4 separate regions of the Homo sapiens genome follow, and all the other regions are reported to be linked to region 2. Evidence: microRNA targets listed by miRTarBase, many of them from high-throughput screens and not tested one by one. Region 2 holds a microRNA gene; each other region holds the end of a gene's coding sequence.

Region 1 (7,120 bases), not on the chromosome of region 2:
TGAAAAGGAACAACAAGCAAAACCCACCCCCAAGAAATCAAAAACAAAACAAAACCAAGAACAAAAACTGAACACCTTTCAGGTCATTAGAACCAACAATTACCCAATGATTTTTATACTAGTCTAGCAAGATGTGTGTAACATTCACTGGCTGTGATTGCTGTGCAGTGAAACAGTAAATTGACAGCAATAGAGCCATGCTACCTTAAAGTCCAAGCTACAAGTTCAAATTAAGATGAAGGTTATGAAGGATAAAAACGCAAAGGCCTGCTGGGGCTTTGTTTGAATCAAGCTAATGGGCGACTGGGATAGAGCGCGAGGCTGTTTGGTATAGAGCGCGAGGCTGTTTGTTCCCAGTGGATATAAGGAAGGCCACGAGCCAAGTCTGTGGAAGCTGCTAGAGAGCAGACCAAGGCTTGGTCATCTCCGTCAGCCCCATGCCCAGCTAGGACCGGGAATGGGTCCGGGAGCTAATGCCACTCACTCGCCTCTGCTTGGGAGGAGAGGAGTTCGGGGGTCTCAGGCAGATGGATCTGGAAGCCAGAAAGTCACCCGGTGGCTGTTTGATAATTCCGGGGAAAAGCCATCAGCCAAGAGGGTTTCTCCCCCAGGGAAGGCGAAAGGTGGTTCCCATGTTCGCCATTGAGCTTAACTGAAACAAAGACGAGGCTGAAACATCAGTGTTAAAAGAATTTACAAAAATCTTTCAAAATGGACTTCTAGATGGAATGGGGGGACTAACGTGAACCTTAAACCTAGGTAGCCACATTAAAACATATCGGATTTCCACAAGATTTGTGCTATGGGCTACTGGGTCTCTTCAAAAGGTATATAAACATCTAAAACATATTCACACAGATTATCAATTTCTTCTGAGCATTCTTAAAAAAATATTTTTTCTCTTAGTAAAATCATTTTAATATACCATGCCTCCCTCTTTTAAAAAATAAATTAAAAAAATCCAGTTTTGCATATCTAGCATTAGCATTTAAGGTAGTATGGCACCCCTTCACAGTGGGTGGGGGGGGGGGGATCTACAAAACGCCGTAGAGTCCGCCGGCATTTTAACATGGTGAGACCTTGGGTTAGTTGAAACCACATCAGATCAGCTAAAATAAAATTAAACTTGAAATTGAAAAAAATAATTAAAGGAAAAAACTGCCCCAAAATTATTAGCATTTTTTTTCATAAATAAGAGAAAGTTCTATCCTTACTGGTCCTAAATCTGAATAACTATGTCTAATTTTTTTTAAACCTTAATTATGTTATACCTATCAATATGTACTAGAAGAAAGAGGAGAAAAAAAGTCGCTACACTAGTACCAGGACAGCACGCTTACAAGATAGCCATTTTATACATTATTAACATACAATGATCAACAAAGAGTCTTCTATGAGGTGATGGGGGATGCAGAGAAAAGGAAGGGAAGTACAGTACATCACCAACATGGACAAAATAGGAATTAAATTCCCTCGTCTAAACACTGAATTTCTGGGAATTTACTATTTTTTCTTTCTTTTTTTTTTTTTAAATAAAACTTATGTTTTGTTGTTTTATGACTTGAACAAGTTTTGATATTTTAAAAGCGCTCAGCATTTAATCTGGTTGTTTGGGGGAAAAGAAAAGAAACAAAGAAAGGAAAAAAACAACAAAAAAACCTCACCAAACAACCTAACATTTTATTAGAAAAACAAAGAACATGATTTTTTTTTTAATTAAAAAAAATGTTGTTGCTGTTTCATTAGAATTGAAAACGGGTTTTTTCTTTCTTTCTGAGTTAGCATTTTGGAGTCTTTAGTTTGAAGATGCTTTTGCCCTACCATGTCTGTGAATGTCTACATTAGTCTACTTTGTTAGTAAAATTTATAAAAATAGGAGTGCAGCAGCTCTTTATAATAAATGTCGCATTCAGTGTCTCATACTGGCTGTGCCTTAAGTACCAAATTTATAAACGTAACAATTTAAAAAATATTAATAAAACGTCAATATCACATTTTAAAAAAGAAAAAATATATATCCACACTACAATATGTTTTAATGCCATCTATTGAGTTGTACTTCTATAGTTGCTGTTGCCGACCTATTACCAATATTTAAAAAAAAGTTAAATTAAAAAATATCCTTCATCATAAGTATCTTTCCCCAACCGAGGACCATATATTATAACAGCCAAATGTTAAACATGTGCAAAGAGGAAACTGTCAGTTTTTCCCACCAGTCACAGTGCAGTGATGTTTATACTTTTTATTTTTAAAATTCTGTTTACATCTACAATAAATTAAAAAAAAATTCTTCCATAGCCTCTCTGGTGATACTTGCAGCACTGAGGTATTAAAAAAAATATATATAAACCAAAAGGTTGCTTTCCTAATTTGTAAATAGAAAGTGAATGGAGAAAGGTTGTATTAATGCAGGCTTATCCACTCCTGGCCCATGGGCCCCCAGATGTGGGAGCAGGGTGGGGGGCAGGGGGAGAAGAGAGGCAAAGTGTCCTAGGGACCTTTGGAGGTGCTGAAATGATTGGACAATAGAAAATGATCAAATATTTAAAAATTAAGACTGAAAAAGAATGTCCCCCCCACCCCACCCCCACCCAAGCCAAACAGGTGTGCTTTGAAACTTTAAATATGTTAAATATTAAAATTGTAGCTTTGTTTTTAAAAAACATCTTGGGAAAAGCAGTTTTTCATATTTTAAATAAAAATCTAACTAGACGGTAACATTTGAAGCTGTGCACAGACAAGAGGTTAATAGGCTGGTACAACACTAATACAGTTCTTAGGTCTATCACACAGACAAAGGAGCTAAACAGTGCTCTAACTTGTCCTGGGGTGGTCCTGGCAGCTGGGCGATCTTCATCTCAGTAACTGACTTGGCCAACGTTCCCTTCCCGCCTCCTTCCACAGAGCATCAAACTGCCTGGGACCGACTCCCTCACAAAAATATTTTTGATTCTCTCTTTCTTAATAGTTTCTATGTAGTTAATGGAATTGTATTTACAACATTTCTTTTTTAGAATTCACAATTTCAAAAAACCTTATAATATCACCTCTTTCAACAGAAAAAAAGCACTTATAGAAAAGGAGGACACTCAAAACACTGTCGTCCTTACCTTATTGCCGAAAATAGATAGACTCAGATTAACAAAGAGACATCACAAAAAGAACTGCTAGAAAGTCTGTTAATTAGCTTACTACATCTCACTTCTTCTACAACGCAAAATAGAAAGCTCACGCCCACCTCCCGCCCTGCACTTCACAACTTTGCTTCAGTGTGTGCTAAAGTTCCACCTGAAAATTCATACAGTCTCAGAATTGGTACCAAAATATGGAGAGTCATATTACCATCTCAGCATCCTTTAAAAGTGAGAACAGAACCAAAACAAGCAAAAAAAAATGTTTTAAGAAAAAATAACTCCTTAATATAACAATTATACTATGGTTAGCTTTGAACTAGATATTAAAGCTATGTGACTACTGGACTAAGTCAAAATCACTACCAAATGTGATTCAAAGAGATTTAAAAGGAGAATGGGAAGAGAGGGAGGGAGAGGGAAACCATCAAGAAAAACAAAACAAAACAAAACCGAAATCATGGGTTATATACACATTTAAAAGCTGTTGTCTTATATTACAGCAGATTCGTGAGATGATGAGATGTAGTCAACCCTCGATCCGAAGTGAGCCATCTCTGGTTGGGATGGGGAGTGAGGCTGGTGGGGGTCCAGGTCTGAGGACATCACCTAAACAAAGGGCCACTCAGAAACTTCGCCCAGTCTTGCCTGGACATCCAGGTATGCTCTGCAGGGCAGGGAAGGCCAGGATGTCCAGAAGAAAACATAAAATGGAGGGGAGAGGGGAGGAGAAAGAAGTGTCAGACAAGTATGCGATTTCCTCCACTGTTTTAACTAGAGTTTCAAAGATGGACTTCACTGGACTATTGAATACGCACGAGAATCACCTGGCTAGAAGCTTACTGAGATCACAGGTTGGGAAATCTGACATCTAAACCATACCTGACACTGGGGAGAGGACAAGGCTTCAATTCTTTTGCTGATTTGATATAGTACCATAGGGTTGTTGAGGTAGTGGTGGGAAATGTGCTTACAGGGATTGCAGCCAGGTGGGCAAACTGCCCATTGACCTGAGATACCTTTTTTCTGTTTAAACTTCTGTTTTCAAAGCTAAATGTTAAAAAAACAAACAAACAAACAAAAAAAACCCCACAAACTTGCCTTTATTAGATACCCATCGATAACTTTTAAATGCAAACTTACACTAAAAGATCATATCATATACCAAAAACTAAAGGTCATGACACTAAAAATATACAACAAATAACCGGCTTTGGTTACAGGAAACAAAAACAGGCCCAGGATTCACAGATGTGTTTACTGAGTCTCCCTGAATTGACTGGGAGTAGGGGGCCTGGGCTCCTCTTTTGTGGATGGCGCTGAATGTCAGAGGGTTGGGGACAATGGGTGTGTTTGACCAGTCCTTCCTAAGTGCTGCGGGTGCAGCCATCTGACTCTATGAGCTCACCTAATCCATTTTGGAAGGGGGTGAGTTGCTACCACACTCTTGGTTACTTCATCCTTCTCTGGAAATTGAGTCCTAGACTTAGATGAGGGAGGATGGGCTGGTAGCAGCCTCCCCCATCCCATTCCACCCCACCCCACCCCTATGGAAAGGCTTTAGTGGCCTTGGGGTTATATGGAGCTGTGGGCAGGAAGCCCTGCACCACTCCTTCTCTTCCAGGGGAGGGAGGGAGGGAGCACAGGCAGCCCCAGTGTCTGGCCTTTCAAGGGTCTGCTGTGCCTGGTAGTTGTTTAACCCCCTCTTCATCTGACTCCACAAAGGGCTGGAGCCATCTTCAGTCTCCAGAGTTCTTGGTGATACCAGTTGTCCCTGTTCTCAGAGAAACCTTACTTCCTCTGGGTCCCCAAACCCAGCTTAATTAGTAGCAAGTAGCTTTCCTTCAAACTGTTAGTGGCCTCTGGCTCTGGCCAGCAATGGCTGGGTCAGTGCTCAAGGGGAAGTGGAGGCGAGGGGTGGGAGAATTCACACACATGGTTTATTTGGTTAAGAGAGGCAGTTGCGTTAGTTGAGGTGATCCCTTAGCAGCAACATTAGAGAAATCCAAGAGATTTATGGAGCTCAACTCAACCCAGTTCTCCACCTGGTCCGACTCAGGAGCCAGGAGCAATCCCTCTCTACGAGAGAGGCATCCAATGAAGTGCAAGCCCAAAGTGGCCAGTTCATCTCCAGCCTTGCTTCTCCTACATCCCAACTCCAAGATTGAAAGGCTTTGGTGCCTCTGTGGGATTTTCCGAGTGGAATCCATTCCCTGGCCTCAGCTGTCACCCTCTCTTTTCCAGAGACAGATCCATGTTCCAACCTCACAAACTTAACGTGCTAACACAGTACACATCTAGCGCTTTCACAAGGACAACCCCTCTCCCTTGCTGGTGTTCTTCCCAAGAAGGACAGATACTCATTTCCAAAGGAGTGTGTGGCAAGGGGCTTCCTCACTGCCCCAACCTCCCTCTCCTCTCTTCCGTCCTCCCCCATATCCCCATCAAAGTGATTGAAAAAATGTTTAATTAACTTGAGCTCAGTTTAAAAGGTTAGGAAACTGGCAGGGATCCAAATCCATGTTACACAGGTGATGTCGTTAATTTAATTTGCTTTTCGTGCAGTAATCTGGATAATTACTCAGTAGTTACTGGCAAAAACGTTTTCTTTTCACTAAAAGATGGAGTCTGGCTGTTTGACTGCATGAACCCCATTGGCTGAGCCCCAGCAAGGCCTGGGGAGCTGAAGGGGCCCAGCAACCCACAGGGCCAGCTCAAAGGACCTCCAGGAGTGGGTGGCCCTGGCCCCCATCCCTGCTTCCAGGCCTAGCAGAAGCCCAATGCTTCCCTGCCTCTATCCCCCTGGGACGGGCACAGCACGAGATCTCCTTCCAGTTTCCCACACTCTTGATTGTATTTCAAGACAGAGAAAGATGAAGGGTGGGGAAGATACAGAAAAAGAATCCAAAGAACCAAATCAAGAAAAAAAGAGAGAGAGTCAAAAAGGTGGGGGTCATGATTAAAAGCTGGAGGAAGAGATGAGAGATTAAACGACTGGATTTGCTTTTGCCCCCACCCTCCTGAAAAGGGGTCCAGAAAGAGGAGAGAGAGATGTGGATGTGATGAGACAGGGGCACGCACGTGCATGTATGACCTGTGGACATACATGTACGGACACACCGGCAGGGCAGAGACACATGGCAGAGACGGTAATACCTCAGAGTGAGATGGCAACGAAAGCACCTGCTCAATGGTATCCATTTGTAAAGGCCGTTGCAATCAAAGGTCCCTAAAATTGCACAATTGTTAAGGTCATCAGTGTGCTATACATGGGAACAGATTGTCATATTCTGGGAAAGGAAATTATCTCTAGGACTAGTTCTGTGGTTGCCAGCATGAATATGTAATTCTGAGACACCGTGCCATGAGGGGCCAGGATGACATCCTCCTCAGCTCCAAATCCCTAGTCCCCACTCCCTCCGCCCCTACCAAGCCTATCTGCTTACCCCGGGGGAAACCAAAAGCCAGATTCAGAGGCGTGGGTGGATGGTGGGAAACGGGGGTTTGTGCCCCCAGTGATGGGCATGTTGCCCTGAACCCCAGAGTGCAAAGATAAGTCTCTGTCCGCAGTCCCAACGGCTCTAGCTGGGGAGAAGAAATCCCAGTGCAGACAAACTGGGATGCTTTCTGGTTATTTCAGAAAAACATCACAGCCCACAGGTCAAAAGACCCCGGTTTTCAAGAACAAATTGGGTCTGTGTTTCTGGATGCTGAATATGGAAATAAGTTGTGTTATAAGTGGTGATAGACGGTCCCCTAAATTGAGCAGCTCTCAGGTGAATAATATTATTCTGGATTTGGTACCACAGTTGATCCGAAGGGATTAGATTCATCAGACTACTGACTTAAGTGATACTGGCTTGGGAGCGGAGCTGAACAAGGACCCATCCTGCACAAGTAGGGCTGGCAGGCGTGTGTGCGCCTGTGTGTGCGTGTGTGCGTGCGTGTGCGTGCATGTCTGTGTGCGTGTGTGCATGCATGCGTGC
Region 2 (7,110 bases):
GGATCAGGTGGGAGGTGCAGTCGCTATGAAATAGTCCTGCCAAGAATCTCTGGGAACCTGCACATCTAACTTCCAGTGGACAGGAACCCTCGGGGGCTCCCAGGGCGCCCAGCTGGGCTCCTGCAGAAGCCTCTGTGAGAGAAGGTGGGGTGCCCTCGGGGGCTCCCAGGGTGATCAGCTGGGCTCCTGCAGAAGCCTCTGTGAGAGAGGGCGGGGTGCCCTTGATGCAGAGGCTGGGGAGACGCAGCCGCAGGTGCACACATGAGCCCTGACAAAGAAGTGTGGGAAAGCACAGCCCTGCACAGCTGGTGGGGATGATTCCGAGGGGCTCGGGACGGTGCTGGGGAGTGGTCCGTGTCCTCGGGTGTGGAGAACACCCTGTCTCCAGAGGCAGCGCTCAGGGCCTCAGATCTGAAACTGACATTCAAAGGGTTCAAGACATAGCATGACGTAAATATGGCAGAATATCCACTCCCCTCTCCGTGGGGAGTCCACGGGGCTCGTGCACTTCTCTTTTCAATTCTGCACCTGAGACTATCCAGGAAACTGCAGGGAAGAGGCTGCTTGGACTCGGCCCCTAGCCGGCCCCAGCGTCTCTTCCGAGGCCCAGCACTCACTCCCATTCTGAGCCCAGACTTGTCGGCTTCCAGGCCGTGAGGAAGTGGCAGAGTGCTCAGGGCCTCCTAGGCCACGCCAGGACCTCTGGAGCAAAGTGGGCTCACTGAACAAAAGCAGGCCTTGGCCTCCTTTAGGGGTGTTTGGTGGGGCCCTGCACAGCCCCCAGTCAAAGAAAAATCACCTGGGCCGGGCGCGGTGGCTCACACCTTTAATCCCAGCACTTTGGGAGGCCGAGTCAGGTAGATCATGAGGTAAGGAGTTCGAGACCAGCCTGGCCAAGATGGTGAAAACCATCTCTACTAAAAATACAAAAATTAGCCGGGCACGGTGGCGGGCACCTGTAGTCCCAGCTACTCTGGAGGCTGAAGCAGGAGAATGACGTGAACCTGGGAGGCGGAGGGTGCAGTGGGCCAAGATCGTGCCAGTGCATTCCAGCCTGTGCAACAGAGCAAGACACCAACTCAAAAAAAAAAAAAAAAAGGTAAGTACCAGAAGCGCTGGCCCTCCCCCCATTGCCTCTGCAGCCTGGCTGGGAGGCTCTGCCACCCCCACCTCAGAAAGGTTCCGTTCATGCCCCAGAGTGGCGGTCAGCTTCTCAGGGGACTCCTGGGGCTCCTGAGTACTCCCCAAGGCAGGGTCTCAGAGGGCTTCCTCTTGTTCCCAGGCCAGGAGGACCCTCATTCCCAGCCTGGCTGTCCACAGAAGCCACAGTGAGCCACTCCCCCATGGTGCCCCTCAGCCCCCACCTACCATTCACAGGACAACGGCCTCAGGACCGGGGGGCTGTGGCCAGGAGGCCTCCGTTTCTGGGACGCCTTCCAGCCCCGTCCTGGCCCCTGTGCTCCTTCCAATGCCCTCAGCAGGGTCTCAGTGGCTGGACCTGATACGTGGGCATGTCTTGGCAAGCCTGGACAGCCACCTTGGTGGGGTCTTGGCAGGAGCCCTGCCCATCTTCCTGGGGGAATTCATCCCTCTCCCTGCCCAGCAAGCCGCCCACCCTGCAGTACAGGTGAGGGCACACGGCCCAGCTCACCCAGCCCAGATCCCAGGGAGGGCATAGCCCTCAGAACCACAGCTCTTCTGGGGAAATGGGCACCATACTGGAGAGTGGGGCCTCTCCTTTCACAGCCCAGCAGGTGCTGTTAATTACACCGCAGCCTTGCAGGGACAGAGCTGGGCAGGGTACGAGCGCAGAGTGAGGCGGAGGGACGGAGCCAGGCGGGGTACGAGCGCAGAGTGAGGCAGAGCCTTTGGCTCCCTGGATCCAGCCGTGCCTGCATCCCCATTCTGCCGACACTGTCTGGAGTAACAGCTGCTGCTGCATGTCCGCACAGCACAGCGAGGTAATACCTGCTTTATCTGTGCAGCTTTAAAGCCCTATGTTCAGGTGTCCTGTGGAGAGTGACTCGAAGGCCTGCAAGAGACTCCCCAGCAGGGCCGACCTCCACCGTTCCCTAGGGGGCAGGGGGAGCAGCCGAGCTCGTTGGGGTGGGGGGCGTGGCTGCCCTTCCACATGTGGCCTGCGGCCCCCCGGCCGGAAGCACCCCACCCCTCTGCCTGCTGCCTGATCTTTCCCCTCGGACACCCCAGCTGCGGGCTGTGAGGGAGGTGGGAGGTGACTATCAGATGAGATTAGTGCTAGGCTTGGAGAGGAGGCGCAGCCTGGGGAGGCAGCCCCTGATAACCGGCCTGGGGGCCTCTCAGCCAGCTCATTGCTCCATTTGCTGGGCTCATTGGTGATAAAGGCTGTGGCCTTCAAAGACCTGGGCGTGGCCCTGCCGGCTGACGAGGACTCTGGCTGAAGGGTGGGGCCTCCCCGACTCCCGTTCAGGCCTCCTTTTAAGACAGCAGCCGACTGTCATTCTTTAAACAGGGCTGATGAGGGACCCCCTGTCCATTTTTCTTCAGTGGGAAGTCAAGACCGCAGTCCCACCCTGGCCATTGTGGAGGCCTGGAAGCTGCGGGGCCCCCGCCCAGGACAGACCAGTGCCCCCCACCCTCACAAGCCGTCCCTCTGGGCTCTCCCAACACTGCCGGCCGGTCCCAGGCTCTGGTCATCAGAAGGGTGGCCCCAGACCGGTGCCCAGCCCAGGCCCCCAACCGAGGCCCCAGGAGCCGTTTCATCCCCCCGTGTTTATGCATTTTTAACTAAGTTCCCCCAAGTCCACACGTGACTAATGTGACGTCCAACCACCGTGAACGAGAGGAGACCAGCACGACAGAGCTGCTTTGTCAAAATTTGTATTTATTGTCAAAACTTTACCACATCTCACACATTTAAATGAAATTAGCTCTACTGAAATTTCTGACCAGAAAATCAACTCATACCCATGATTACAAAAGTAATAAAGGTGTTAAGAAGCAACAGCCAGCCGGGCGCTGTGGCTCACGCCTGTAATCCCAGCACTTTGGGAGGCCGAGTGAGGTGGATCATGAGGTCAGGAGTTCAAGACCAGCCTAACAAGGTGAAACCCTATCTCTACTAAAAATAAAAAAATTAGCCGGGTATGGTGGCAGGCGCCTGTCGTTTCAGCTACTTGGGAGGCTGAGACAGGAAAGTCGCTTAAACCCGGGAGACAGAGGTTGTAGTGAGCCGAGATCGCGCCACTGCACTCCAGCCTGGGTGACAGAACGAGACTCCATCTCAAAAAAAAAAAAAAAAAAAAAAAGCAGCAGCAGCAAAAGTGCACAGACCCAGCGTGCACGCGTCTCCGCCACGCCTCACTCCCGTCTGCGCCTGGATCCACCGCCACCCGCTTGTATAAAAAGTGGGCCCCACACGGTGCAGCTTCGTAGTCTGCAAAGAAAATGTCCAAAGAATGAGTTGTGGATCCTCCCAGCCAGAGCCCAGATCCCAGGCACCCCGCCCCACTTCCCCCGACCACCAGGCGGCCCCAGAGCCCAGGTTGTCCCTCCCGCCACCTCCTGTAATGGGTCCACCCCCAACTCCGGTCAGACTGGTCACAGAGCACCGCCCAGCTCCAGCCCTCCTCTCTGCATCCTGGGTCCCAGCTCAGGGGCTGCAGAGATCAACCCAGGGCAGAGGCCTGGACCACGTCCTCCCCAGACACTTCCAGAACCCACACAAAAGCACACATCCACGTTTCCCTTGTTTTAGAATATTTGGCCCCTTTCTGCCCCAAGGATGTGGGGGTCAAAGCCCCGGGGCTCCCGGCCGAGGAGAAAGGAAGCAGGTGGAGTCCCAAGTCAGGAGGCAGGTGCTGCTGGAGCAGGTGCAGGTGCACTGGTGCAGGTGCCGCTGGGGAGGACCCGACCGCCCCGTTTTCCCATGCCCTATACCTCTTTAGGCCAGATCCTCAAAGAAGTATATGCATAGGAAAAAGGAACGGCGGGCGGCTCTGAGGCGGGCCGGCTCTTCAGCACTGGGAGGTGGCTGTCCTGGGGGAGGGTCCCGTGCCGGGCAGCAGGGAGAAGTCGGGACTGAGGCCTGGTGGGCACGGAGATCCTGTGGGAGTGAGGAGGGCAGAGCCAAGCCAGGGCCGAGTTCCCAGAGGCAGGCCTTGGGCCTCGTCTTACCTGTGGTCCAGCCTCCTGGGCCGCTGGCGCTGGGTAGCCCGTGAGCCTCGTGAGCCTGGGAGGAGCGGTGGAGAACTCTCTGAGCCGGGAGTTCTGCTGCTGCCGAGCGAGCTCCACATTTATGCGCAGGGGAGACCTTGGCCGCCGCTGTCACATGCAACCAGAGGGCTGCTCTGTGCCAAGGACCCCGTCGCACCCCCGCACCTGCCAGATTGGGGCACAAAGACCTGCTGTGAGAAGAGTGCTGAGCCAGGGCCCGCCGGGCGGGCGGGCGGCGAGGGCTGTGGGCCGGGGGCTGCTGGCCCGGGAGCTGGGATGGGGCCAGCCTGTCCCCCCGCCTCCTCCAACCCTTATCTCCCCACGCGCTTCTGCTTGCGTCAGGGGCCCGGAAAGCACACGTGAGCAAGAATCGCTTGTCCAGGGAAGGGGCCGACTCTCCTTCCTGGGCCTGCCCAGCTCAGCAATAAGCAGCACCTTGGGCTGCACCCGCAGCCTCCTGGCTCACAGGGACTCTCAGAACCCCCAGCCAGCGTGTCCAACACTGTCCTGGCCACTGGGAACCAGACCCCACCCCCAGGGTAGGTGGCCCTGCTTGGCCTGGGGCGGCCTCCACAGCTGGGGCTCCCTGAGGATTCACGGCATCAGGCGGACACTGGTCCAGTGAGGCCCAGAGCCTTCCCCGGGCCACAGAGCCCGCGAGCACGTGGAGAGGGGCCACGCTCTGCAGCCTTGGGGGCAAGAGTGCAGGGTCGGAGGGAGAGGGCCCCTCAGGGACAGCTGGCCAGACCCACAGCTGCCCACACAGAGCGAGACCACACAGGCAGGCAGACACCCTCTCCTAGGGCCAGGGAGCCCCCGGCCGAAGGGCCCAGGCAGGCAGCAGAACTCCTGCAGGTCTGGGGCTGTCCCTGTGTCCCAGGCTCAGGACACAAGGAAGAGGCCCAGAGGAGGCCAGGGCACAGGGCTTCCACAGGTGGCCAGGGACAGGGCTTCTGAACCCCAGCCAGCGGTCTCTCCCCAGGACGTAGGCAAGTGGAGGCTGGTGAAGGAACAAGGCTGAGGCCTCAGAGGCCTCTTCAGTGACCATGTCCTCGGGGAGACTCAACGTCGCTAGGCAGGCCCGTGCGGGCGCCTGGCCCCAGCACCTGTGATCTGTAGGGCCAGAGTCTCAGGACTGACCCGACGCAGCACCCACATGCGGCAGGGACACACAGAGACCCCCATAGACACACGTAGACACATATAGACTCACATAGACACACACAGAGACACACACAGACACACATAGACACACACAGAGACACAGACATGTAGACAGAGACACACTCAGACATGTAGACACACAGAGACACAGATGTACACAGAGACACACACAGACACGCACACAATGGACCCACACACCCCCCAGGTGCAGCGGGCCTTGACTGTTGTACGCGAGAGTCTCCTGTCCCCTGAGTGGGGAGGGGCGTGGGGGGCATGAGGGGCCAGGTGGGGCTGCAAGACTGTCCAGCGCCCTCCTGATGGCCCCCGAGGCGGCCAGGAGCCCCGTCTGGGGAAGGACGAGTGGGCCCTGCTGGGCAGGAGGAGCCATAGGGACCATGGGGATGATGGACGATGGATGATGACCCAGCCACCTGCCAGGCCACTCTGCAGACCCCCCATGGGAGCAGCCTCTGCCCCCACCTTGTGCAAACCGTTGATCTGCACGCCAGGCCAAGCAGGTGATTGTCACGACCAGCGATGGCCACAGAGGGGTGGGGGGGAGCACATCAGTCGGTCACAAGCCCTCCTGGTGGGGACATGGGGCTGGGGACAGGCCCTGCTCAGGGCTGGTCCCCCACAACGAGGCCCAGAGTGGGCACGGGGGGCTGCTGGGCTCCATCCACCTGCTGGCAGGCTGAGGGTTGCCTTCTGGGGGAGGAGGGAACGTGGAGCTCAGACACACGCATGCTCACACTCAGGCTCACGCACACTCCTGCAGGCATGCTCACATCCACACACACGTGCATGCACAATTCACACACTCAGGCTCACCCACACTCACTCCTGCAGGCACGCTCACATCCGCACACGCATGCACAATTCACACACTTATGCTTACCCTCACTCACACACGCCCATGGTCCCCCACCTCCATGAGGTCCGAGGATCCGAGGAAGAGTCCTTGGGGGGCTAGCAGGGGAGGGGCCCCACTCCTCCAGACACCTAGAACCTACACAGAGAGCCCCAGCATCACACTTCGGGGGCCTGGGCTCAAAAGGCCCCTGCAGAGCCCCCCATCCTGGGCCTCCGCCCAGCATCAGCCCTCCCTGTTTCTCCCCGTTGTTTCTCCCCGTTTCTCCCCGTTTACAGCTGCCCGGCGAGGCTTCTGGGAAACACATAATGCAAACCCTGACCTTGGGCTCCTGACCTCGGTTCTGCAAGAGGGAAGGAGGAGACAGGCAGAGGGCCAGAGAGACAGAGACAGAGAGACCAACAGACACAGAGAGAGACACAGACAGAGTCAGAGAGAGAGAGAGAGGCAGACACAGAGAGAGACACAGACAGAGACAGAGAGAGAGAGATCAGCAGACACAGAGAGAGACACAGACATAGAGGGACAGAGACAGAGACAGTGGGGAAACAGAGACCAAGAGACAGAGACAGTGGGGAGACAGAGAGAGAGACAGACACAGAGAGACAAAGAGAGAGAGACACGGACAGAGATAGAGAGACACAGTGGGGAGACAGAGACCGAGAGACAAAGACACAGAGACAAAGAGACAAACAAAGAGACAGAGACAGTGGGGAGACAGAGAGTAGGGAGATAGAGACAGAGACACAGAGACAGTGGGGAGACAGAGAGGCAGAGACAGAGAGACACATACAGAGAGAAAGAGCAGGGAGACAGACAGACACACACAGAGAGACACATACAGAGAGACAGAGACAGCGGGGAAGCAGGGAGACAGAGAC
Region 3 (7,117 bases), not on the chromosome of region 2:
CATCCTGAGTAGCTGGGACTACAGGTGCACACCACCACGCCCCAGTAAATTTTTTGTATTTTCAGTAGAGACAGGGTTTCGCTATGTTGGCCAGGCTCGTCTCGAACTCCTGGCCTCAAATGATCCACCAGCCTCGGCCTCCCAAAGTGCTGGGATTACAGGTGTGAGCCATATTTTATGCCTTTTATCAGGGCATCCTCTGTAGGTTTACATGACATAAAATTGCCCAGAGGGCAACTGAAGAGCATCACTCTACAATTTGGGAGAGGTAAAGGGAAAAGAATCAGATGGGTAAGATACATAAAAGGTATATAGCTATGAAGTTGTTCAATACTCAGTACACACCGTGGTTAAACACAGATGCAAAAGCCGGATTGCAAGTTTGAATCTTGGCTCCATCACTGCACATCCTTGGGCTGGTTCCTTAACCTCTCTCAGTCTCATATCCCATAAAAAAAAAAAAAGAATTAAATTAGTCAATATAAATGTAAAAGTTCTTACAACTAGCTGGCACATAGAAAGCTGTTAGCAGGCAGGGCATGGTGGCTCACATCCATAATCCCAGCACTTTGGGAGGCCAAGGCAGGCAGATCACTTGAGGTCAGCAGTTCGAGACCAGCCTGGCCAACATGGTGAAACCGCATCTCTACTAAAAATACAAAAATTAGCCAGGCGTGGTGGTGGGCGCCTGTAGTCCCAGCTACTCAGGAGGCTGAGGTGGGAGAATCACTTGAACCTGGGAGCGGGAGGTTGCAGTGAGCCGAAATCATGCCACTACACCCCAGCCTGGGCAATAGAGTAAGGCTCTGTCTCAAAAAAAAAAAAAAAAAGCTGTTAGCAGTTGTAGCAGAAACATGGTTTTACCCATGGAATATCCATGGGCTTCCCCTTATTTCTTAGCCTCCCTTGTGTTGGGTCGGGACACGTGACCTACACCAATATGCTGAGAACAAGTGTCATTTGAGGACTGAAGCAGGTGAGAGCTGATGCATGCTTGCCAACTTTTTCTTCCCATCACTGAAATTTCATGGAAACCATGTGGTGAGATGGTAGAGACACAAACTGGAAGTAATCCAAATCACTGAGCGGCCACATGGAGAACAGTCACCCTGAAGTCACCCAACTTGTATCAGATTTTGTAAGAAATAAACCTTTGTTACATTAAGCCACAGAGATTTCAGAACCTGTCCTGTCCTGACCGATGCAGCTATTATTAAACTTGTAATCAAGAATGATTAGTCTGAGAAAAGGACAGCAAATTTTAGAAAATTAGGAAACATTTGCTGAGTACCTAGAATGTTCCAGACATCTTGTATAGTGCCTTATCTTCTCTAATCTGGGGGTGGTTTTTGGCACCCAGGGGACATTTGACAATATCTGGAGATATTTTTTGTTTCACAACTGAAGGGGTTCTGCTGGCATCTAGTGGGTAGAGGCCAGGGACACTGCTACAAAGCCCTATAATGTATTAAGTGTACAAAAGGAAACCCTCCCGGCCAGGCATGGTGGTTCATACCTGTAATCTCTGCACTCTGGAGTCTGAGGCAGGCAGATGGCTTGAGCCCAAGAGGTTGAAGCTGCAGTGAGCCCTGATCGTTATGCCACTGCACTCCAGCCTGGGCGAAAGAGCGTCTCAAAAAAATAAAACCTCTCTGCTGTTGGTTTCTGTGACTGGCAACGTTGGGTTGCTTGGCTCAGTATTAATAGTCAAGCAGTTAAGTAAATAAGCACAACTCCATTAATCCAGAATAAAAATACTGTTGGCAACCCATTTAAACATTGAGTCTAAGCACTTGAACATGAGTGTTGCTTCATGTTTCTCCAGTTTGGGAAATCTGTATTTGCAGTTGGCAGAGATTAGGAGTTGCTACACTTAGCAATAAGGAGAGTAAAGCCTTAACAAAACTGGATACAGTTTGTTAAGCCCTCCAAACTGACATGTTAAGATGGAGATGTTTACCAGACATCCAAGTCAAAATATCAAATAAGCAATTTAATGACTACAGCTCAAGAGAAATGGGTTTGAGATAGAAATTTGGGTCTTCAGTATAGGTAATAAAGCCTGGAAATGAATGTGGTCTCACCAATAGAATGTTAGAGAAGTCCAAGAACAAAACCTTGGTGATATGGTTTGGCTGTGTCCCCACCCAAGCCTCAACTTCAATTGCATCTCCCAGAATTCCCACGTGTTGTGGGAGGGACCAAGGGGGAGGTAATTGAATCATGGGGGTCAGTCTTTCCTGTGCTGTTCTCATGATAGTGAATAAGTCTCACGAGATCTGATAGATTTATCAGGCTGCTTTTGCTTCTTCCTCATTTTCTCTTGCCTCCACCATGTAAGAAGTGCCTTTCACCTCCTGCCATGATTCTGAGACCTCCTCAGCCATGTGGAACTGTTAAGTCCAATTAAACCTCTTTTTCTTCCCAGTATCAGGTATGTCTTTATCAGCCGCATGAAAACGGACTGATACAGTATATTGGTACCAGGAGTGGGGTGCTGCTAAAAAGATAACCAAAAATGTGGAAGCAACTTTGGAACTGGGTAACAGGTAGAGGTTGGAACAGTTTGGAGGGCTCAGAGGAAGACAGGAAAATGTGGGGAAGTTTGGAATTTCCCAGAGACTTGTTGAATGGCTTTGCCCAAAATGCTGATACCAATATGAACAATAAGGTCCAGGCTGAGGTGGTCTCAGATGGAGATGAGGAACTTGTTGGGAACTGGAGCAAAGGTGACTCTTGCTATGTTTTAGCAAAGAGACTGGCAGCATTTTACCCCTGCCCTAGTGACTTATGGAACTTTGAACTTGAGAGAAATGATTTAGGGTATCTGGTAGAAATTTCTAAGCAGCAAAACATTCAAGAGGTGACTTGGGTGCTGTTAAAGGCATTCAGTTTTATAAGGGAAGCAGAGCATAAAAGTTTGGAAAATTTGCAGCCTATGTGATAGAAAATTAAAATGCATTTTCTGGGGAGAAATTCAAGCTGGCTGCGGAAATTTGCGTAAGTAGCAAGGAGGCTAATGTTAATCCTCAAGACCATAGGGAAAATGTCTCCAGGCCATGTCAGAGACCTTCATGGTCTGGACATGGAATATCTACGTCAGAGCCCATGGATATTCCACGGGTAAAACCATGTTTCTGCTACAACTGCTAACAGCTTTTCTTTTTTGAGGCAGAGCATTACTCTGTTGCCCAGGCTGGGGTGTCGTGGTGTGATCTCAGCTCACTGCAACCTCTGCCTCCCAGGTTCAAGTGATTCTCCCATCTCAGCCTCCTGAGTAGCTGAAACTACGGGCACCCACCACCACGCCTGGCTAATTTTTGTATTTTTATTAGAGAGCCCTTCCCATCACAGGCCTGGAGGCTCAGGAAGAAAAAGTGGTTGCGTGAGCCAGGCCCAGGGTCCCTGTGCTGTGTGCAGCCTAGGGACTTGGCACCATGTCCCAGCCCCTCTGGCCATGGCTGGCTGAAAGGGGCCAATGTACAGCTTAGTCTGTGGCTTCAAAGGGTGGAAGCCCCAAGCTTTGGCAGCTTCCACGTGGTGTTGAGCCCGCAGGTGCACAGAAGTCAAGAATTGAGGTCTGGGAACCTCCGCCTAGATTTCAGAAGATGTATGGAAACACCTAGATACCCAGGCAAAAGTTTGCTGAAGGGGCGGGGCCCTCATGAAGAACCTCTGCTAGGGCAGTATGGAAGGGAAATGGGGGGTCAGAGCCCCACACAGAGTCCCTACTGGGGCACTGCCTAGTGGAGCTGTGAGGAGACAGCCACCGTCCTCCAGACCCCAGAATGGGATCCACTGATAGCTTGCACCATGCACCTGGAAAAGCCACAGACACTCAACACCAGCCCATGAAAGCAGCCAGGAAGGAGGCTGTACCCTGCAAAGCCACAGGGACAGAGCTGCCCAAGACCACTGCAGGCTGTACCCTGCAAAGCCACAGGGGCAGAACCCACCTCTTGCATCAGCGTGACCTGGATGTGAGACCTGAAGTCAAAGATCACTTCGGAGCTTTACAATTTGACTGCCCTGCTGGATTTCAGACTTGCATGGGCCCTGTAACTGCTTTGTTTTGGCCAATTTCTCCCATTTGGAACAGCTGTGTTTACCCAATATCTGTACCCCCGTTGTATCTAGGAAGTAACTAGCTTGCTTTTGATTTTATAGGCTCATAGGCAAAGGGACTTGCCTTGTCTCAGATGAGACTTTGTACTGTGGACTTTTGGGTTAATACTGAAGTAAGTCTTTGGTGGACTATTGGGAAGGTATGATTGGTTTTGAAATGTGAGGACATGAGATTTGGAGGGGCCAGAGGCAGAATGATATGGTTTGGCTGCATCCCTACCCAAATCTCAACTTGAATTGTATCTCCCAGAATTCCCACGTGTTGTGGGAGGGACCCAGGGGGAGGTAATTGAATCATAGGGGTGTCTTTCTATGCTATTCTCTAAGTCTCATGAGCTCTTATGGGTTTATGAGGGGTTTCCTCATTTTCTCTTGCCGTCACCATATAAGAAGTGTCTTTTGCCTCCCGCCATGATTCTCAGGCCTCCCTAGCCATGTGGAACTTTAAGTCCAATTAAACCTTTTTCTTCCCTGTCTCGGGTATATCTTTATCAGCAGCGTGAAAAGACTAATAAATTAAGCTGAAGGAGGCCGGGTGCAGTGGCTCACACCTGTAATCCCAGCACTTTGGGAGGCCGAGGTGGGCAGATCATGAGGTCAAGAGATTGAGACCATCCTGGCCAACATGGTGAAACCCTGTCTCTACTAAAAACACAAAAATTAGCTGGCCATGGTGGCGCACACCTGTAGTCCCAGCTACTAGGGAGGCTGAGGCAGTATAATCACCTGAACCCCGGGAGGCAGAGGCTGCAGTGAGCCGAGATCATGCCACCACACTCCAGCCTGGGCAACAGAACAAAACTCCATCTCAAAAAAAAAAAAAAAAAAAAAGTTGAAGGAAGAATGAGGGAGAGAATGAGAAGCAAGGAAGCACAATACTGCACGATGGAAGCTAAGTAAAGTGGGCTGGGTGCAGTGGCTCACACCTGTAATCCCAGCACTTTGGGAAGCCAAGGCAGGAGGATCGCTTGAGCCCAGAAGTTTGAGACCAGCCCAGGGAACATGGAGAAACCCTGTCTCTACTAAAAACAGAAAAAGTAGCCAGGTGCGGTGGTGTGTGCCTGTAGTCCTAGGTACTTGAGAGACTGAGGTGGGCCGACTGAACACGGGACACGGAGGTTGCAGTGAGCTGAGATCACACCAGGCCACTGCACTCCAACCTGGGCCACAGAATGAGACCCTGTCTCAAAAAAAGTGCTTCAAGGAAGGAATGGTCAACCCTGTCAGAGTACTGAAGGTCAAGGAGGAAGAGGATGAGCTTTCTCAACCTGGACCACATTGCTGATCTTGACATACAGCTTCAGTGGCACAGCAAGCCTTGAGGGTTTTAACAGTTTAAAAAAAAAAAAAAAAAAAAAAAAAACAGGAAAAGCTCATCCAGTCACTCTTTTGAGGAATTCTATTAAAAAGGAACAGAGAAATGAAACAGTAACTAGAGACAGTAGTGGTCTGAAAAATAAAATCCTGAGTCATATTAAATATGAGGGTTTTTAAGGTCATCTAGTTGTATTGTATCAGAACAAGCAAGGAAATCCCATAATGTTCTTTCAACTGTTTTTACCTATAAGATTTTGCAACCAAAGACTTTCGGCTAAGATGGCCACAGGACATTTAACTTGTAAGGGCTAGTATGAAGGTACTACAGGTATAATGCACATCATCTAGCCCACCAGGAAGGAAATATGCTTAATAACTTGCCCCAGGCTGTCCCAGGACAAGGATCTCTAGAGAAAAGACAACCTACAGACTAGTTGCTTGCTGTTTTCCAAAACATTTGTTGGAAGAAATCACATGACACATGTATCAGGAACATTTTCTAATTATGTATATAAATGGGTATGTGATATGTGTGCTATTTGTGTGCTAATGTCCTAAGTGAAGTTCTGCAGACCATCTGGGTCAAAATGCATTTCGCATGATCAAAAATGAAGAACCACTGGTTGTCACGGAGACAGGGAAAAAAAAAAGAATGGGGAAAAATGCATGACAGAGTCTTTACTTTTAAATGATTATCGATACACCAAGTAATACATGTAACAAGTTCTTGAATTCTATCATCTAGTAATTTTGATTAAGAGAAACTAAAAGCAGCCCAAACAATTCCACTAGTATTCACTGTTCTAACCATTAGCAAGAATGGACTACTTTAAGGCTGGCTGCTGCTTCACACAGGTTACAAAGAACTATTTACTACTTTTTCATAGATAAAGCCCCTGACCTTCAAGAAAGTGTTAGGGAAAAAAATTATTTAATCCCTTCCTTTCTTCAAAGAATTGTTATGTGGTTTTTTTTTTTTTTAAACTAGATCTAAGAAAGAAAAAGTCAACACTGATATACATGTTGCTTGAGCCAAAAGACATAGGAAAAAAAGACAACATATAACCATTAAATTCCTAAGAAATATGAGGTAAAAAGATGAAATCTTTAGATAATTTCTAAGTCTGTACAAAAAAGCTAGATTTGCTACTCTCCAAAAAGTGGAAGGACCTATTATATAATATATGGAAATAATTTAATGCCATATCATAAGAATGTAACTAGAGCTGTGCTAAGCTTCATATTCGTGAGGGCATCTAAAATGCCACTCCACAGCACAGGTGCTTCTCTCTTCTATCCATTTATGCGGTAGTTTTCATGGATTTCTGGCCGAATGTCACAGACAAAAGCCAAGAGGTTGTCCAAGACTTCATCCCTGTTCTGCCGGAAGTATGTCTGGAGGATGGTCATCTTCTCCTGGGTCTCCTTCTCCACTTCAGTGCTGCAACTGCCACGGGATCCCAATGCCTGGAGATGGGGAGTGATGTCACGGAGGGATTATCAGAACAATGCTCTGGTTGGTCAGGTACATTTCGTAAGCTACTTGTTGACTTTTGGAGAAACCCAGGCTCACCTATCAGTATACTCAGAAGCTGGCAATATGACCTCATGGCTGGAGCACATGTGAGGTATTCTCAGAGTTAACAGGAGCCACATCTACCAAAAGTAAACTACA
Region 4 (7,116 bases), not on the chromosome of region 2:
ATGGGCAACCAATGTAGCTTTGGTGATGACAGGCATCTCACGAACCGGGTGCTGAGCCTGGGCTATGCAACAAAATACACAGCTCGATCTAAGTGCCTTACTGAAACACCTATAGAATATCTCAGATGGCTAAACCAGCAGACCCGTTGGAGCAAGTCCTACTTCCGAGAATGGCTGTACAATGCAATGTGGTTTCACAAACATCACTTGTGGATGACCTACGAAGCGATTATCACTGGATTCTTTCCTTTCTTTCTCATTGCCACAGTAATCCAGCTCTTCTACCGGGGTAAAATTTGGAACATTCTCCTCTTCTTGTTAACTGTCCAGCTAGTAGGTCTCATAAAATCATCTTTTGCCAGCTGCCTTAGAGGAAATATCGTCATGGTCTTCATGTCTCTCTACTCAGTGTTATACATGTCGAGTTTACTTCCCGCCAAGATGTTTGCAATTGCAACAATAAACAAAGCTGGGTGGGGCACATCAGGAAGGAAAACCATTGTTGTTAATTTCATAGGACTCATTCCAGTATCAGTTTGGTTTACAATCCTCCTGGGTGGTGTGATTTTCACCATTTATAAGGAGTCTAAAAGGCCATTTTCAGAATCCAAACAGACAGTTCTAATTGTTGGAACGTTGCTCTATGCATGCTATTGGGTCATGCTTTTGACGCTGTATGTAGTTCTCATCAATAAGTGTGGCAGGCGGAAGAAGGGACAACAATATGACATGGTGCTTGATGTATGATCTTCCATGTTTTGACGTTTGCAGTCACACACAACACCTTAGTTCCTCTAGGGGCTGTACAGTATTGTGGCATCAGATAATGCCACCAAAGGAGACATATCACTGCTGCTGGGACTTGAACAAAGACATTTATATGGGTTTATTTTCATTCTGCCAAAGTAAAACAATACATCAACAAGAAGAAACTCAGATTTAACCTGTTATTTCTATGAAAATGGGATGAATTCTTTGTTTATGCACTTTTTCCTTACTGTGCATCCGCCTGAAAGTGTTTTGCCCTATATACCTCACTAGCCATGCTTTATGTGGGTTATCATGGAAGAAAAGGATTTTGGAAACTCAAGGAAAAGTTCTTTCAACCTATACAACCTAACTTATGGACTGTTTTGATAGATGATAATTTTTTTTTTTTAGGAAGGATTTTCTTTTTAACTTTACCAAATGAAATGCCAAAGGAAGTTTTAAAGGCCGTTGGCTGTGCTGTATTTTGATATAATTGTACTGTGTTTTTAAATTTTGTATGCCAATCTTAAAGACAAATTTTGCATATTCTCTATTTTACTTTTCTGCCAAAATAAACCTGTTCTTCCTTTTTTAAAATAAAATAAGTTCTTAAAAAATTTATACTTAAAAAATCCTGCCCAAAATGTGAAGCTTGGTTGACTGATGTTCATGATAGAAAGAATAAAATGTTTCTCTCTCTCTACCTTTTAAAATTGAATAGTTTATTTCTGTGAAAGAAGTATTTAAACTTTCAATATTTTAACTTTTTGTTTTTATTTCTTTTAGAAAAGGCCAATATACCTATCACACTTTGGAAGTAAAAATACACACTTTCGTGTGTACCTAAAAAAAAAATCGTTGAAAATCAAGGCCAAAGGTAGTGCAATTTTTTCATTAAGATTTAAAAAAAAGGGAATGATAGTCTTTGAAAGAAAACAGTAGGCATCCAGCACTGGACAAAACATGGGTATCAAAGATGAATAATCTTTGGAGATTCTGGCAGTGTTTTCCCAGAACAAGTCAAGTGGAAAGTGGAGAAATTATCTGTATAATTTTGGACACATACAATGCAGTTTATCAAAGGTTTTGTTCTGTGGCCTGAATTTACTGGGTCCTACCTACACATTGAACATGTTTTGCCTGTCTTTTTTTTTTTTTTCAACTTGCCAGTTCACTTTACATGTTAGTATAATGTTTACACGGGTGAGTTGGATAAATTATAAAACATATAAATTCAAAATTGGCAGATAGAATCACCAAGTATCTATCCTCTTTTACTTTCAAATGAGGAATTTTGTTTTTCTGAATTACACAGATCATCACTTCCTATTTCCTGTTCTGGACCTGTATAAAAATGTCTACACAGTAGAAGTGACATCAAGGTTTAATAAGTATATCAATGATTGGCACATATAAAAATTGTTGAACCACATACTCTGAACTTGGCTAATTTAGTTACTGCAAGGCCTCCATTATCCAGTTTTATTTTTTACACGATTGACCTTGCCTTGTAGCTGGTGCTGTGTAGACCTGTGTTGAAAACACAATCGGAATATATGAATAATTGAATAAACAGCATTATGGTGAGGCAGAGACACATGGAGAAGTGTTAAAAAAAAAATGGGCTTCCTGCCTTTCTGCCTCTTTTTTATGCAGTCATCTATGTTACATCTATCCTGCCTAAGAAAAAGCTGCACATCCTACCTTCAGAGTACAAAAAGGTACATCTGAGACTCAAGACTCTCACTGATTGGAGAGCTTGTGGAAAACAAAACACACCATGCCAATAAATGAGATGAAAACTTGAGTTTGCCTTTTTAACTATTTATGTTCTAAGTTAAGCTTTGATAACATTCAAATGTCAAATTCTCTCATTCTTATAAAAAGTTGAATTAATTGCCTGTATTTATTTTAGCAATTATTCAATGTATTTCCAGTATAGGATGTATAGTATAATTAATTTTTTGTAAATAAAATATTTTTGATAAGATTATTGCCTTTTTTTCTAAGGGAAGGGGGAACTTTGTTTTCCTGATTATAATGGTATGAATTTAGGAAGGGGGGGTTTTAAAAAAAATGATGGTTGGTAAAAAAGAATATGTCATTTAATGTTACTTATTATTAGGTAGAAATCCCTAAAACTGGTGTGGTTTGAAAATCTGGAAAACCACAGAGAGAGGAGAGAGACTGCTTAATTATCATTACCCTTGTCTATAATCTTTTTCTTCTGCTTCCCTTGAAAGCAGCACAAATTTAGACAATTTTTTAAATTATAGTAACTTATAGCAGGAAAAAAAATCAAAGATATGCAGAAATATGATAAGCAAGCTTGTTTATTTCAGCATTATTCAGAAATAATAAAACCTTAACCTAAAATCAAATGATGAGGGCAATAATTAAATAAATCATGGCATTTCTAAAAAATGGGACATCATTAGCTATTGAACACAATGTTCTCAGAGAACACGTGGATTTTGGAGAAATGTCACATTAAAAAAATAACCATTTTGTACAGTAACATCCCAATTTTATAAAAGTGAAGATGTTTAAACATGATTATCTCTAATACTGGGAATGACTGATTTATATTCTGTATATGTTTTTGTATTTTCCAAATACTATAAATATGTTTTTATAATCAGGAAAAAAAAGACAATAAATATCATCTTTTTAAAAAGTGGGTTGGGACATCTAACAGCATTTTCTGATTAGAGGAACTTTGATAGTAATTATCTCATTTTACCTCTTATCCCTCAAATTCATCTTATTTCCCAGTTCTTTTGTGTTATCTGTTTTCTAAGAATCCTTCATTACTTTTGTACTGCTACATTATAAACTATAGCCACTGAACATTATTGTCAGATAATCCAGAAATATTGATGGTTCTAAACTTAATAATTCACTGATGAAGTCACTTGGTGACAGTCTTTTAATGTAAAGAGCCTTAAAGTATACATTTTAGGACTGGGCATGGTAACACACGCCTGTAACTCCAGCAGTGTGGGAGGATTGCTTGAGGCCAGGATTTTGAGACTAGCCTGGGCAACATGGCAGGACCCAGTCTCTACAAACAATTTTTTTTTTTAATTAGCCAGGTGTGGGCGTTGCCTGTGGTCCCAGCTACTCAGAAGGCTGAAGTGGGAGGATTGCTTTAGCCCCAGAGGTCGAGGAGGCTACAGTGAGCTGTGTTTGCAGTACTGCACTGCAGTCTCGGCAACAAGAATGAGAACTTATCTCAAAAACAAAACAAAACAAAACAAAACAAAAAAAACCCCCACAAAACTATTCTTAATTCACCAGCATTACCAAAACAGGCAACAAGCCAGATATATCCTGCAGCCCATAGTTAATGACCCCTGCTCTTTAGAAATCTGTGGACTTATCTGTACCATTAAGTACTCACACTGACACCTAATTTTTGAGCACATACTATGTTTTAGGCACTACCAGAAGCATGCTTTATAGATTAGTTATTATGTCAGTCCCAAGAAGTTCCATTATTATTACCATTTTAAGCGAGGAAGCTGAGTGAAGTTTAAAGAAATTTGGTAACTTAATATTATAAAGCCAGTACATTGTAGTGGTGGAATTTAGGTCCAGACATTATGACATCAAGCTTGCCCCTTCAACTAATGCTACTCAGTATTTCATCCACTGTCCGGCAGCATCAGCAGCATGTGGGAATTTATTAGAAATGCAAGTTCGTAGCTTTACCCCAGGCCTACTGAATCAAATTCTCTGGAGAATCTGTTTAATAAGATTCCCATCCAGGTGACTTTTAAACACATTAAAGTTTGAGAAGCATTGCCCTAATCTAGTATCTTATATTGTTCCCTTCAAACCGCATATCATTTCGAAGATAGTTATTCATTCAAATATTGTATTCTCCCATTGAACTTTTCTACTTTAATATAATTTATGGGTGTTGGCAGATATCTGGTTTTAACTAAGTTTATTAAGTACCTGTTATAGGCTGGGCACTGTGGCTCACGCCTGCAATCCCAGCACTTTGGGAGGCCGAGGTGGGTGGATCACTTGAGGTCAGGAGTTCGAGACCAGCCTGGCCAACATGGTGAAACCCCGTCTCTACTAAATATGCAAAAATTAGCCGGGCATGGGGACTTATGCCTGTAATCCCAGCTACTCTGGAGGCTGAGGCGCGAGAATCACTTGAACCCGGGAGGTGGAGGTTGCAATGAGTGGACATCATGCCACTGCACTCCAAACTAGGCAACAGAGTGAGACTCTGTCTCAAAAAAAGAAAAAAGTTCCTGTCACGGGCAAGAAATGAAGTGGTGTACACTGTGTCTATACTCAAAGAGCTTACAATTGAGTAAGAGGGATATTTACACTGTAAGTAAGAGGGTAATTACACTGGGATTTGATGTGAAATAGAATAATACTCTTTATACAGAGTGGCATGGGATGTAAAAAGAAGAAGGTGAACATGTACAATTAGCCTCATAACGGCAGGTTTTAAGATAGCCTGGTATTTAGGTTGATTCTTTAAAGACGTGCAAACTTGGATGGGAATTAATGATTTTTCAGGTAAAAGAACATGAATACAGCGATAGTGGTGTGCTTTTAATATGTTGTCCTTTAAACAGAATTAACATTTAATTAAAGTGGAAGTTGTAGTTAACCAAGAGTGGGACATGACTATAGATAGTAAATTTGAAGGCCGGGCATGGTGGCTCACGCCTGTAATCCCAGCACTTTGGGAGGCCGAGGCAGGCGGATCACCTTAGGTCAGGAGTTCGAGACCAGCTTGGCCAACACGGCGAAACTCCGTCTCTACTAAAAATACAAAAATTAGCCGGGCGTGGTGGCACATGCCTGTAGTCCCAGCTACTCAGGATGCTGAAGCCAGAGAATTGCTTGAACCCAGGAGGTGGAGGTTGCAGTGAGCCGAGTTCACGCCATTGCACTCCAGCCTGGGCAACAGAGCAAGACTGTCTCAAAAAAAAAAAAAAAAAAAAAAACAAGTAAATTTGAAGATGGACGATAGAAGACCATAACACAACTGGGAGAAATACTAGAATGAGATATTTACATTACTTTTGATAGATGACACACCCATGGAATTTTTGGACAGGGTTCTAACATTGTCATAAAATAAGGCACTTTATGATGTTTGGTTTCAAAGATCTCACAGAAACAATTGTGTTTATAATTACGATTTGGCCTGAGCATGCTTGTAATAAACTGGTATTTCTCTCCCAGGCACCTGACCACATTCATTGTATTTCTTCCAAGGCTGCCTCTTGCTTTACATTCTCAGGTCATCGCCTCTTGCCAATTACCCAAGCACTCTCTTCAGCTTTGTTTTGGTATAAGAAGCCCGCAACCAGCTAGTTATTATAGTCATTTGATCCCACCTTTGCCATGTCATTCAAATTCATCTCTCATCCTTGTTAAGACTTTTTAAATCTCTTACCTGAACTGTTGAAAATACCTCCTGATGGCTGGGCGCAGTGGCTCTCGCCTGTAATACCAACACTTTGGGAGGCCGAGGCGAGCAGATCACCTGAGCTCAGGAGTTCGAGACAAGCCTGGCCAACATGGCAAAAACCCGTCTCTACTAAAAATACAAAAATTACCTGGGCATGGTGGCATATGCCTGTAGTCCCAGCTACTGGGGAGGCTGAGGCAGGAGAATCGCTTGAACCAGGGAGGCAGAGGTTGCAGTGAGCCAAGATCACGCCACTGCACTCCAGCCTGGCACAGAGTGAGACTCTGTCTAAAAAAAAAAAAAAGAAAAAGAAAATACCTCCTGACTACCTTTCTATTCTCCATTTCTGTTTCATCCAATGGATTCTTTGCATTTCTGTTAAAATTATCATTCTAAGGCCCAATTCTGAATACAAAGATTTAACTTCACCTCATTGTCAACAAAAGCATTAAATATGTAAGAAATTATTCAAGACTGATGATTATCTATTTTCTCCCTTGCAGTCCTTTACTCCTATTTTTCATGTCCTACTAAACTAGATTTTTTTGCTCCCTCTTGAACACACTTTGCCCTTCTCCTCTGTTAGCATTTGCTCTCAATTTTAAATGGCTTTTCACCTTTGCCCTTCTCTTTTATCTTTGTGAGAGGGTATTTGCTCTCAATTTTAAATGGCTTTTCACTGTTCCCCCATTCTTATACCTACTTGTCAAAATTCTTCCATATTCTTCATTTTACTAGCATATCCTTTACCCAATACCTCAATTTAAAATGATTTATTTACCTTCACTCTTAGTGTTCTATTTTTATCTCTGTCATGCAGTCCAGACTTTCTTCTGTCTTGTTTTATGAATATTAGTGCACATGATAACAACCTGGTGGACGAAAAGGTTTCTGAGGCTAAGTCTATGTCTTTA

Evidence for each region. Region 2 holds the annotated microRNA hsa-miR-202-3p (AGAGGUAUAGGGCAUGGGAA, at 3,903-3,922, opposite strand). A microRNA usually pairs through its seed, bases 2 to 8, with sites in the 3' UTR of a target mRNA and lowers its output. Matches are read on the target gene's strand: a 7mer-m8 pairs with bases 2 to 8, a 7mer-A1 pairs with bases 2 to 7 and ends in A, and an 8mer does both.
Region 1: miRTarBase lists MSI2 as a target of hsa-miR-202-3p. Seed matches in the 3' UTR shown: 8mer at 2,326-2,333.
Region 3: the mRNA of ATP6V1G1 is a reported target of hsa-miR-202-3p. Seed matches in the 3' UTR shown: 7mer-A1 at 6,529-6,535.
Region 4: the mRNA of HAS2 is a reported target of hsa-miR-202-3p. Seed matches in the 3' UTR shown: 8mer at 1,030-1,037.

The regions. Positions count from the first base shown.
Region 1 is chr17:57,676,230-57,683,349 of GRCh38, reverse strand. MSI2 (musashi RNA binding protein 2) reads right to left here. Exons shown (of 14, transcript NM_138962.4): 13 at 6,291-6,363; 14 at 1-3,801. The coding sequence ends at 6,322. Among named protein-coding and RNA genes, the nearest start is that of CCDC182, 66 kb to the left of the region's middle. RefSeq lists an enhancer at 6,639-7,120.
Region 2 is chr10:133,243,636-133,250,745 of GRCh38, forward strand. It overlaps MIR202 (microRNA 202), which reads right to left and starts at 3,985; the gene lies at 3,876-3,985. MIR202HG (MIR202 host gene) reads right to left here and starts at 4,250. Exons shown (of 2, transcript NR_108079.1): 1 at 4,156-4,250; 2 at 2,844-3,415. RefSeq lists enhancers at 1-353, 675-1,874, 1,206-2,058, 3,627-4,141, 4,658-5,172 and a silencer at 3,422-3,541.
Region 3 is chr9:114,597,362-114,604,478 of GRCh38, reverse strand. ATP6V1G1 (ATPase H+ transporting V1 subunit G1) reads right to left here. Exons shown (of 3, transcript NM_004888.4): 3 at 5,600-6,909. The coding sequence ends at 6,736. It also overlaps a transcript of TMEM268 not described here. Among named protein-coding and RNA genes, the nearest start is that of TMEM268, 10 kb to the left of the region's middle.
Region 4 is chr8:121,607,740-121,614,855 of GRCh38, reverse strand. HAS2 (hyaluronan synthase 2) reads left to right here. Exons shown (of 4, transcript NM_005328.3): 4 at 1-2,740. The coding sequence ends at 747. Among named protein-coding and RNA genes, the nearest start is that of HAS2, 30 kb to the left of the region's middle.